Homo sapiens: one gene and its partners. The protein of the gene in region 1 purifies or fractionates together with the protein of each later gene. This does not show direct contact. Each region holds a gene or a part of one and is shown on either strand. Other genes may lie near its edges. The genes, in order: EPB41L5, HECTD1 and SETD1A.

Region 1 (3,654 bases):
GGCTCACCTGAGGTCAGGAGTTCAAGACCAGCCTGGCCAACATGGTGAAAACCTGTCTCTACTAAAAATACTAAGATTAGCCAGGCATAGCATGGTGGCACGCACCTGTAATCCCAGCTACTCTGGAGGCTGAGGCAGGAGAATTGCTTGAACCTGGGAGGTGGAGGTTGTAGTGAGCCAAGATCACGCCACTGCACTCCAGCCTTTGTGACAGAGTGAGATTCTGTTTCCTTTCTTTTTCCTGCTATTATTTCTTCATTATTGTTTTAGTAAAGCTCTTGTAAAGTTATGTTTTACATCTATTTTATATGTTATATTTAAAGATTAGTCAATCGGAGTGTCACATTGTTTCGACATTCACAATTTATGGAAATACAGAGTTCAAATGTGTGGTAGGTGGTTTGGAATTTACAAGTAGGGAGATACAGTTGGAAAGCGGGCCATAAAGCGAGGTTAAAAAAATTAAGAAGTATTTCCTCTACCCAAAATTCCTGTTGAAAACAGAGTTGAGGCTGGTTGCAGTGGCTCACGTCTGAATTCCAACACTTTGGGAGACCAGGGTATGCGGATCACTTGAGCCCAGGAATTTGAGACCAGCCTGGGCAACGTAGCGAGATGCCGTCTCTACAAAGAATACAAAAATTAGCCTGGTGTGGTGTGGGAGTAAGGCTGAGGCAGGAGGATTACTGGAGCCTGGAAGTTCACGGCTGCAGTGAGCTGTGAACACACTACTGCAGTCCACCCTGTGTAATGGAGGGAGAACCTATCTCAAACAAACAAAAAGAGTTGAAAACCATCGTCAGTGTTTTTCTTTATGGCTGTTTTTTTTAAGCTTTATGGTCGTTCCTATGTCTAGTTCCTATGCTGCTGCTCTGCTTTAACACTGGAACAATTTTCCCTAGACCTAAAGAATCTCTTACACCATAATCGAGACCTATCAAATACATAGATTTCATTTTCCTTAACATTTTTAATGTCTGATATGTGCAACCTCAATTTTGTCTGAGATTTGCTTTTGAAATATGTACTGTGTTTTTCTGTTTCCTGTCTTTTGATGGGCATTGCAAGTTACGTTTACCGTCCTGTCAATTTTTAGTTCAGGAGTTAGATGGTTAAATGTATTTGAAATAAAAACAATTTTTTTCATATTTAGAGAACATTTGTTTGTAATTTGGCTTTTATTCTCTTATTATATTATAGGCCGAAGATAACCAGATTGGATTTTAAGAAGAATAAATTAACCTTGGTGGTTGTAGAAGATGATGATCAGGTAGGAATAAAATTATATTCTATTACTTGTGTAACAGTGACTGTATTATGTGGTAACTTATTTCTCTAAAAGAGGGAATGTACCTCATTGTTTTAAAGAGCCACAGAATGCAAACAGTATAATTAATGCTTTAAATAATTTCCTTACTTGGGTCATACCATGCTAAAAATATGGTTTTCTGCCCTTAGGATGAAAAATAATATAAAAGTGTCTTCTTGTTTCCTCATTGATCGTATATCTGAGGTGTATAAAAAATTACATTTAAGTGAGCCAGCCAGTCACCCAGGCTGGAGGGCAGTGGCACTGTCATAGCTCACTGTAACCTTCACCTTCTGGGCTCAAGTGATCCTCCTGCTCACTCAGCCTCCTGAGTAGCTGGGACTGCAGGCACATGCCACCACCACGCCTGGCTGATTTTTTCATTTATTTGTAGAGATGGGATCTCAGTATGTTGCCAAGGTTGCTCTCAAACTCTTGGCCTTAAGTAATCCTCCCATCTTAGCTTCTCAGCATGTTGAGATTACAGGAGTAAACCATTGTGGCAGACCAACTTTATCTCTTTATTAACTGATCAAAAAGATCTACCTAATAATAATAAAGCCTTTTGAATTAAAGATTACCTTTGTATCAGTTACAGTGTGGTTCTTAATTGATACATGCTTGGATGCAACTCACATGCATTGTTCTTAATGCAAGAAGCCAGATTTAAAAAATTATGTATTGAATGACTCCATTTATCTGATACTTTAGAAAAGGCAAGAAGAATTTTACTTTATGCAAATTAATAAATTTTAACATATGCATACAGATACAGATAAAAGCAGTTTGAGCAAAATGTTAACAGTTGTTGAGTCTAGACACTATGTATATGGGTATTCAGTTTTTCTGTATGTTTAAACATTTTTATAACGATGAAAATTTTTTTTTTGAATCCAGTTCTTTCATTTTCCTCTGCTCAGTAATTTGACTGCTATACTTTTCCTGTTTTAAACACACAATGGGATACTATGCAGCCATAAAAAAGAATGAGATCTTTTTTGCGGGACCATGGATGGAGCTGGAGGATATTATCCTTAGCAAAGTAATGCAAGAAGAGAAAACCAAATACTACATGCTCTTACTTACAAGTGGGAGCTAAATGATAAGAACTTATGAACACAAAGAAGGCAACAGCGGACACTGGGATCTACTTGAGTGGGGAGGGTGGGAAGAGGGAGAAGAGTAGAAAAGATAACTAACTGAAAGATAACTGGACTTAATACCTGGGTGATGAAATAACATGTGCAATAAACCACCATGACACGTGTTTACCTATGTAACAAACCTTCTCTTGTACCCCAAACCCAAAATAAAAGTTAAAAAATAAAAAAGAGTGCTGCTCTGAACACTAAGGTGTATGTATATTTAGCTTTTGTAGGTACTGCCAAACCTCTTTCCAAAGTATTTAATACGAGTTTATACTCCCACCAGCAATGTTATTGGTGTTTTTTTTCTTTTTTGCTAATGTTTGGAATTCTGTCTTTTTCATTGTAGCCATTCTTGTGGAGTAGAATGTGGTTTTAGTTTGTGTTCCCCTAATGACAACTCTGGTTTAGTACTTATCTGTGTAGTTATTGGATATGTGGATATCTTCTTTATGAAATGCCTACTCAAATCTTTTGCTTATTTTTCTATTAGGTCATGTGCCTTTTAGTCATTGAAAAAATTCTTTGTATGTTCTGGATATTAATTCTCTGTCAGATATTAGTGTTGCAAGTATCGTCTACTCCTTGTTTTGCCCTTTTTCCACCACTTTTATTTTTAGATGACATATAATAATTGTACATATTTATTGCATACAGAGTGATATTTTGATACATGTATACAATGTGTAATTATCAAATCAGGGTAATTAGCGTATCCATCTTTACTGTCTTAATAGTGTCTTTAAATAACCTGAAAAGTACCAAAAATTATAAAATAGATAACCATCTTATTAATGATCTAGATTTAACATTTTTTACATTTTGCTTCAGTTCTCTTTTAGAGAAAGATAAATACAATTATGTGCATGAATAAATAATACCAACTAAAGTCTAACCCCCTGACTACCTACCCCCTTTCTTCTGGTACCTGGTCACCAATTTTGGAGGGTATTATTCTCATATATATTTTGTAACTTTTTCCAAATATTAACTCATGTTAGAATTGTTTTAAAAACTTGCATAATTATATATATTTGCAGCTTGCCTGTTTTATCTAAACGTGTACCTATGTAGATCTAACATATATATATGCTATTGTGTAATATGAATAAACAATAGCACATTCATTCATTCATCATTTATTCATTTATCCCTCTGCATAATTTTTTACATATGCCTCTATTTACTTGACCATTTCTC
Region 2 (3,654 bases), on another chromosome or scaffold:
ACTGTGTTAGCCAGGATGGTCTCAATCTCCTGACCTCATGATCTGCCTGCCTCGGCCTCCCAAAGTGCTGGGATTACAGGCGTGAGCCACCGTGCCCAGCCCATTCTTTTTTATGGTTGCATAGTATTCCATTGTGTACATATACCACATTTTCTTTACACATTCATCCCTTGATAGATACTTAGATTGATTCTGATAATGGGTATTTTGGTTTGAAATTTGGTATTTTGGAATCGTAACTTGGAAACTGAGTTGTATGTTTGTTTTTTGTGTTTCCGTTACATGTACGATGTAGATGGGTTTAATAAAGTTTTTCCAATGGAGAAATTAAGTTCCTTCAGCCATGAAGAAGTCCAAATGATTCTTTGTGGAAACCAGTCACCATCCTGGGCAGCAGAGGATATTATCAATTACACTGAACCTAAGCTGGGTTATACACGTGACAGGTATGTGATACTATTTTCCAAGATCAACAAAATTATTTATATTCCCCAAATCAAATGACAGATTCTCTAAAGAACTTTAATTCAGTGAGTATCATAAAGTAAGTGAGAAAGCAGTGGTGTCTCACAGTTACCAGAATGCATATCCACTGATAAGGCTGGGAGGATACAAAAAGACAACTGACAGCAGGCCGGGCGCGGTGGCTCACACCTGTAATCCCAGCACTTTGGGAGGCTAAGGCGGGCGGATCACTTGAGGTCAGGAGTTTGAGACCAGCCTGGCCAACACGGTGAAACCTCGTTTCTACTAAAAATACAAAAATTACCTGGGCGTGGTGGCAGACGCCTGTAATCCCAGCTACTTGGGAGGCTGAGACAGGAGAATCACTTGAACCCAAGAGGTGGAGGTTGCAGTGAGCCAAGATCATGCCATTGCACTCCAGCCTGGGCAACAAGAGTGAAACTCTGTCTCAAAAAAAAAAAAAAAAAAAAGACAACTGACATCATGGCTGATGTTGATTCCTTTCCTCATTGTGTTTTAATTGTTCATTTTTAAAATTTGGTAAATTGTAAGCTGTTGGGCTATATACTACGTTTATATTAAACTTTTTATTGAATATAACAGATAAGTACACACATCATATATACAGTTTAGAGGATTTTGTCAAAATGAACACACCTGTATAATTGGTATCCAGAATATGAAACAACTTCAAAAATCCCCCTTCCCACCATATTCTTTTCTATTAATCTAATCACCATATGTTGATCAGTTTTGCTTGCTTTTGAACTTTTAATATATGAAATCATGTAGTCTGTTTTCTTTGTGGTCTGGTTTGAGTAATATTATGATTATGAAATTTATCCATGTTGTGGCATGTCGTTCATTTACTATTTCATTACATAAATTTATCACAAGATAATTATTTTGCTGGAATAAAAATTATTTCAGATCCCCTTTGGTATATTTATCCATATTTGAAATGATTTTGCAAGTGCATCCTGTGTTTTTATGATTTGCTGACTTTGTTGCAGAATAGATGGACCCCATACACTGTCAGTATTTTTTAGTTCTTACAATTTGTAAGTTCAAGACAGTCTTTGAGGGATTTTTATTTTTATTTTTGAGATGGAGTTTCGCTCTTATTGTCCAGGCTGGAATGCAATGGCACAATCTCAGCTCACTGAAACCTCTATCTCCCAGGTTCAAGCGATTCTCCTGCCTTAGCCTCCCAAGTAGCTGGGATTACAGGCGTGCGCCACCACGCCCAGCTAATTTTGTATTTTTAGTAGAGATGGGGTTTCACCATGTTTGTCAGGCTGCTGTTGAACTCTTGACCTCAGATGATCCACCCGCCTCAGCCTCCCAAGGTGCTGGGATTACAGGTATGAGCCACCACACCTGGCCCGGGATATTTTTAAAGTAGCTTATATTAGCCCATTTCATACTTAACCAAGAGTCTCTAGATGTGTTGTTGTTCTGGTGTGAGGATATTGTTTTTTAGGGGGCTTGTTGCTGCCTTAGAAAATAGTGGTAGTGATTTTCATTTAAATCTGCAGTCAACTCAATATAACTATATTTTTGTTCTTTTAGCCCTGGTTTCCTGAGGTTTGTGAGGGTTTTATGTGGCATGTCTTCTGATGAAAGGAAAGCATTCTTGCAGTTTACCACTGGTTGTTCAACTCTACCCCCAGGTGGACTGGCTAACCTGCATCCCAGGCTCACGGTTGTACGCAAGGTACAAGCTCTCTGGCTAATGGGGAATCCAAATGAAATTTAGTTACTTTACTTTTGAAAGAAAGAAGTATTTAAACTCATGGTCTTCTGTTGTGTTTGCTTTCTTGTTGTAGGTTGATGCTACTGATGCAAGCTATCCATCAGTCAATACATGTGTGCATTACCTTAAGTTGCCTGAATATTCTTCCGAGGAGATCATGAGAGAGCGCCTGCTAGCTGCTACAATGGAGAAAGGCTTTCATCTCAATTGAGCTTTGAAGTGCAATGGGAGACATCAGAGACTTTAAAAATACTAGTGAAGCCTCTTGTGTTTGTGTGCAGAGAAGTATATGATCCACCATGCTAATGACACTTGCCTTTTTTTCCACCATTAAGGCTTTAAGAACATGTGGAATAAGTTTTTTAGCTGCTAATGACAAAACAAATCCTGTAACTACCCAGCCAGCAAGTATATAGCACAGAACACTGTGTTACTTTACAAGGGCTTATGTGACTGGAATAAGGTGGTCCCACTTGACTGTTCCAAAGAGCAGCTTCTCAGATCTTCAGTGTTCACTGGTAAATTTCTAACAGTGTATTTGTGTAAAGTTTGTCATTTCATACTCCATACACTACAGTTGCTGTCACTGATCCCTGTTTTGCTGGCTTTTAAGCTACTTGGTCAAAAATCCTGCTTCCTTAAAACATAGAGAATTAATGAGCATCTCAAGCTTTTTCTTTTCCTTTTTAATGATGCCTGCACTATCAAGAGTATTCTAGTGTTCTCTCTTTGTTTGGCATATAATCATGCACCAAACTTTTTATTTCTTTAAGGTGGGAGTATATTTTTATTTCCTAAATGCCATACTATGAAGATCAAAGTCTTAAGTGTGTTTGCAGCTCAAAAATAAAGATGTATTAAGGGGGGAAAACCTGGTCTAAGTGCAAGGCACACTTACAGCGAGTTTTACTTTCGGTTGTATTTTCTTTGTATATTATAAACATTTATTTAACTTGTTGCCGTTTGAAGTAAAAAATTTCCAAAATGTATGCTCAACAATAATCATTAAAATGTTTGCAGCGTACAGAACTGTGTCATGTGACTATTTCAATGCAGTCATCAGACTTAAGAGCTTTAGCAGGTACTTGTCATTTTGAATCATCCAAAGTTTTCTGAAATTACTACATAAAGAAATGTGTTTTTCTATAGTAAATACGGGTATTAAAATTGAAAGGCTAGAAGAAATATATATTCACACACTTGTGATCCAATGGTTGGGTTCAGTTTTAAAGTATGCCTCAGCTAGAACTGACCAGTTACTTGTGTTATTTTTTTAAAAAAACACCAGATCCACAACTTAACTATTGTATCTATAAGGATATATAAGTAAGGATGTAAGTGAGATCCAAGAATGATTTTTAAATGTTGTGTGTCAAAACACGGGGATACCGCTGTTTTCTGGTTTTGAAGAAGGGACTGTATTTCCAAATTCC
Region 3 (3,654 bases), on another chromosome or scaffold:
TGGGATGCTTTCCTTTTCGGGCCTCTTCAGACAGAGTCTGGGGCTTCCTTTGCCATCCTCCCCGCATGCTGATGTTTATCTCACAGTGAAAATGGTTTGCTTATGCAGCTCCTTGGTCTGTTGGACTTCCCCGTCCCTAGCCCAGAGCCCAGCATCCACAGCAGGGAGTGAGTGAGGAGCCCACGGCTGGCCAAGTGAGGTCTGCCCACCTCTCCTGACTGCCCCTTCTGGATTTCCAGGCGAGGACGAGGAAAGCGATTCGTCTTCCAAATGTTCTCTGTATGCTGACTCAGATGGCGAAAATGACAGCACATCAGACTCCGAGAGCAGCAGCTCTTCCAGCTCCTCATCCTCCTCCTCCTCCTCGTCCTCATCCTCCTCGTCCTCTTCATCCTCTGAGTCCTCCTCTGAAGATGAAGAGGAAGAGGAGCGGCCAGCAGCCCTTCCCTCAGCCTCCCCGCCCCCCAGAGAAGTCCCAGTGCCCACGCCAGCACCTGTGGAGGTGCCAGTGCCGGAAAGGGTTGCAGGCTCCCCAGTCACACCCCTGCCCGAACAGGAGGCGTCTCCAGCAAGGCCTGCAGGTAGGTGCCACAGGGCTGTCGGTTAGATCGCTGTGTGTGTGAGAGAGAGAGAGAAAACAGTGGTGCTTGCATTTATTGTGTACAAGTGTGTGACTTTATTAGAAAAACATACAAAGAAAATGTCACCATCTCCTGTCACTACCTTCTAGAGACATTGATTGTCTGACACACTTCAAACTGTACCGTCATGGTGGTTTACAGAACCCCAGGCTAAGCTGCATACTAAAGTAAAATGGGTTGGTCTCTTCTCAAGTAAATTAAGGAGAAAGTGCCCAGTTGAATAAGTTCTTCCTCCTAATTTTTCTTAAGCCTGTTCTTCAGTGAGTAGTGAACAAGTGCAGGTTATTAAATGGGCAAATAGGTAGAAAACAAGTATTAACATAACACAGAACTTGGTCCTAGCTGCTTTTCTTTGTTCATTTGTACGTCTAGTTGTTATACTCTAGCACATTCGCATAGCTTAGCCTGCTGAGGGAACCGCTCTTTCAAGCAGTAGATATTTTTTTGAGTGCTCATCGCAGCCAAACAGTAGGTGCAGGGGATGGGTTGCTGAGCCTCACAGGCAGTGTTCTCACTCTCATCATGCTTACAGTCTACAGGGAAAGACATCTTCATTGAGTAAGAAATACATAGGAGGCCGGGCGCGGTGGCTTACGCCTGTAATCCCAGCACTTTGGGAGGCCAAGGCGGGTGGATCATGAGGTCAGGAGATCGAGACCATCCTGGCTAACATGGTTGAAACCCCATCTCTACTAAAAAATACAAAAAATTAGCCAGGTATGGTGACAGGCACCTGTAGTGCCAGCTACTCAGGAGGCTGAGGCAGGAGAATGGCGTGAACCCAGGAGGCAGAGGCTTGCAGTGAGCCGAGATCGCACCACTACACTCCAGCCTGGGCGACAGAGCGAGACTCTGTCTCAAAAAAAAAAAAAAAGACCAGCCTGGGCAACATGATGAAACCCTGTCTCTACAAAAATTACAAAAACTAGCTAGGCGTGGTGGCGCACACCTGTGATCCCAGCTGCTCGGGAGGCTGAGGTGGGAGGATCACTTGAGCCCAGGAGGCAGAGGTTGTAGTGAGCCAAGATCACACCACTGCACTCCAGCCTGGGTGGCAGAGCGAGACCCTGTCTCAAAAAAAAAAAAAGAGAGAATACCTAGGAAAACCTGTGGTTACGAACCATGAGAAGCACCAGGAAGAGGCACAGGGCAGCCAGCCGGAGCACATCTGCAGGAGGAGGAAGGCTTCCTGCTGAGGTACTGCTGGGCTGAAGTCTGGGCAAAGCAGGCAGCACGGCTGGCTTAGCGTGTGCAAAGGCCCTCCAGCAGGGGAAGCAGCGGGTTGGAAGACTGGAAGAAAGCCGACCCTTCAGAGGGTTGAGCACAAGGGGGCACTGGGGTGGCTGAAACTGGAGAAGTGAGTGAGAGTTGGGCCCAGCAGACAAATAGGCCAGCCATGTCAGGAATTTGGCCTTTATTTTGAAGTAGAAACCCATCAGAGGAATGACATGGTCAGATGTATGTTTCGAAAAAATGCAGTGCAGAGAAAGCTTGGAAAGGGGCCACAGTGGATGTAGGGCGCTTCTTAAGTGGCTATTGTAGAATGTAAGGCGAATTATGGTGATAGCTTGGACTTAGGGTGTTGCAAGGATAGATCAAATAAGTCAGTGTTCAAGATGTGCTATGAGCTTTAGGAGGCCGAGGCGGGCAGATCACTTGAGGTCAGGAGTTCGAGACCGGCCTGATCAACATGGCGAAACCCCATCTCTACCAGAAAATACAAAAATTAGCCAGATGTGGTGTTGTGTACCTGTAGTCCCAGCTACTTGGGAGATCGAGGCACGAGAATCGCTTGAACCCGGGAGGTGGATGTTGCAGTGAGCAGAGATCATGCCACTGCATTCCAGCCTGGGCAACAGAGTGAGACTCCATCTCAAAAATCAGATGTGCTGTGAAGATGTGCATGGCCTCCCGGGGTCTCCCAGTTGCACGTTGTTGAGAATCCGTGGTCTGAGATAGGCAGTGCCCACAGGAAGACCTCCTCACCCTGGTGCACTCTACTAAGCTCCAGACCCCATGAGAGGGGAGTTGAGGCGCTCATTACACCTCAGATGACTCTCCAACCTCTTCTGGGCCCATTGGGTAGCAGAAGGGCCTGTGGGGTCACCGGCAGGTCAGAAGGCATGGATCTTAGTCCTCTTCCATTCTCATCAGAGCAGGAAGGAGAGGGGCCTGACCATATCTGCATTTCAGAAAGCCCATTCTAGCAGGAGGAGGAGAGATTTGGAAGAGAGGAGCAAGGAGGTGGGTGACATGAGGAGGTTTGAAAGGATGCAGGTGAGATTTAATGGCATGAACCAAAGCCGAGCGGTTCTAATGTGGCAGAAGAGTGGAGTGGAAATGGGGGTGAGGATTGGAGGGAAATTTAGGAGGTAGGATGATTTGGTTAAACTTCCCCAGGAAAAGAAACTTGGGAAGAAAACCAGGATTAGGAAGAAAACTGATGAGTGTAGTTGAGGTTGCATTTGAGGTGCCCCTTGGGCTTCCCAGTAGAAACAGTGGCAGTTGGATCCATGGATCTGGGGTCTGGAAAGAACGGTAGGCTGGATATGAGGTCGGTGCTTAGGTCTTGAAAGTGTAGCAGTGAATTCACCTATAGACCCAGGTAGGCGAGTGGGGGGAGAGAAAGGGCAGAGCCTTCCCATCCTGTGAGAGCAGTGGGCAAGCAGGGCCCGAGGAGGCTGAGAGCGGTGACCAGAGGCGAGAAGGGAAGCAGGTAGTGGAGAGGCTCTGCAAAGCAGGGAGTGGCCTTGTATCACCAGGCCACCAGCAAGGCTGAGATAGGAAGTATCTGTTGCATTTGACAGTTAGGAGGTCATTGGTGACCTTATCAATTTCAGTTGAGTGGTTCAGACTGAAGCCAAGTTACAGGGTGTTAAGGAATGAGGGGAGGGCAGTTTTCTGGAAGGGTGGACCACTCTTGCTGAGATAGAAAGGAGAGTTGGGGCCGGGCGCAGTGGCTCACACCTGTAATCCCAGCACTTTGGGAGGCTGAGGTGGGCAGATCACTTGA

The links.
Region 2: the proteins of EPB41L5 (region 1) and HECTD1 purify together in Homo sapiens (co-immunoprecipitation; 3 studies listed by BioGRID and IntAct, with this or other methods). This does not show direct contact.
Region 3: the proteins of EPB41L5 (region 1) and SETD1A purify together in Homo sapiens (co-immunoprecipitation; 3 studies listed by BioGRID and IntAct, with this or other methods). This does not show direct contact.

Annotation. Positions count from the first base shown.
Region 1 is NC_000002.12:120,085,971-120,089,624, forward strand, and holds part of EPB41L5 (band 4.1-like protein 5), read left to right. Parts: intron 1-1,200; coding exon 1,201-1,270; intron 1,271-3,654. UniProt on the Homo sapiens protein: Plays a role in the formation and organization of tight junctions during the establishment of polarity in epithelial cells.
Region 2 is NC_000014.9:31,099,708-31,103,361, reverse strand, and holds the end of HECTD1 (E3 ubiquitin-protein ligase HECTD1), read left to right. Parts: intron 1-295; coding exon 296-446; intron 447-2,037; coding exon 2,038-2,182; intron 2,183-2,294; coding exon 2,295-2,432; 3' UTR 2,433-3,245; downstream 3,246-3,654. UniProt on the Homo sapiens protein: E3 ubiquitin-protein ligase which accepts ubiquitin from an E2 ubiquitin-conjugating enzyme in the form of a thioester and then directly transfers the ubiquitin to targeted substrates.
Region 3 is NC_000016.10:30,971,139-30,974,792, forward strand, and holds part of SETD1A (histone-lysine N-methyltransferase SETD1A), read left to right. Parts: intron 1-239; coding exon 240-581; intron 582-3,654. UniProt on the Homo sapiens protein: Histone methyltransferase that catalyzes methyl group transfer from S-adenosyl-L-methionine to the epsilon-amino group of 'Lys-4' of histone H3 (H3K4) via a non-processive mechanism.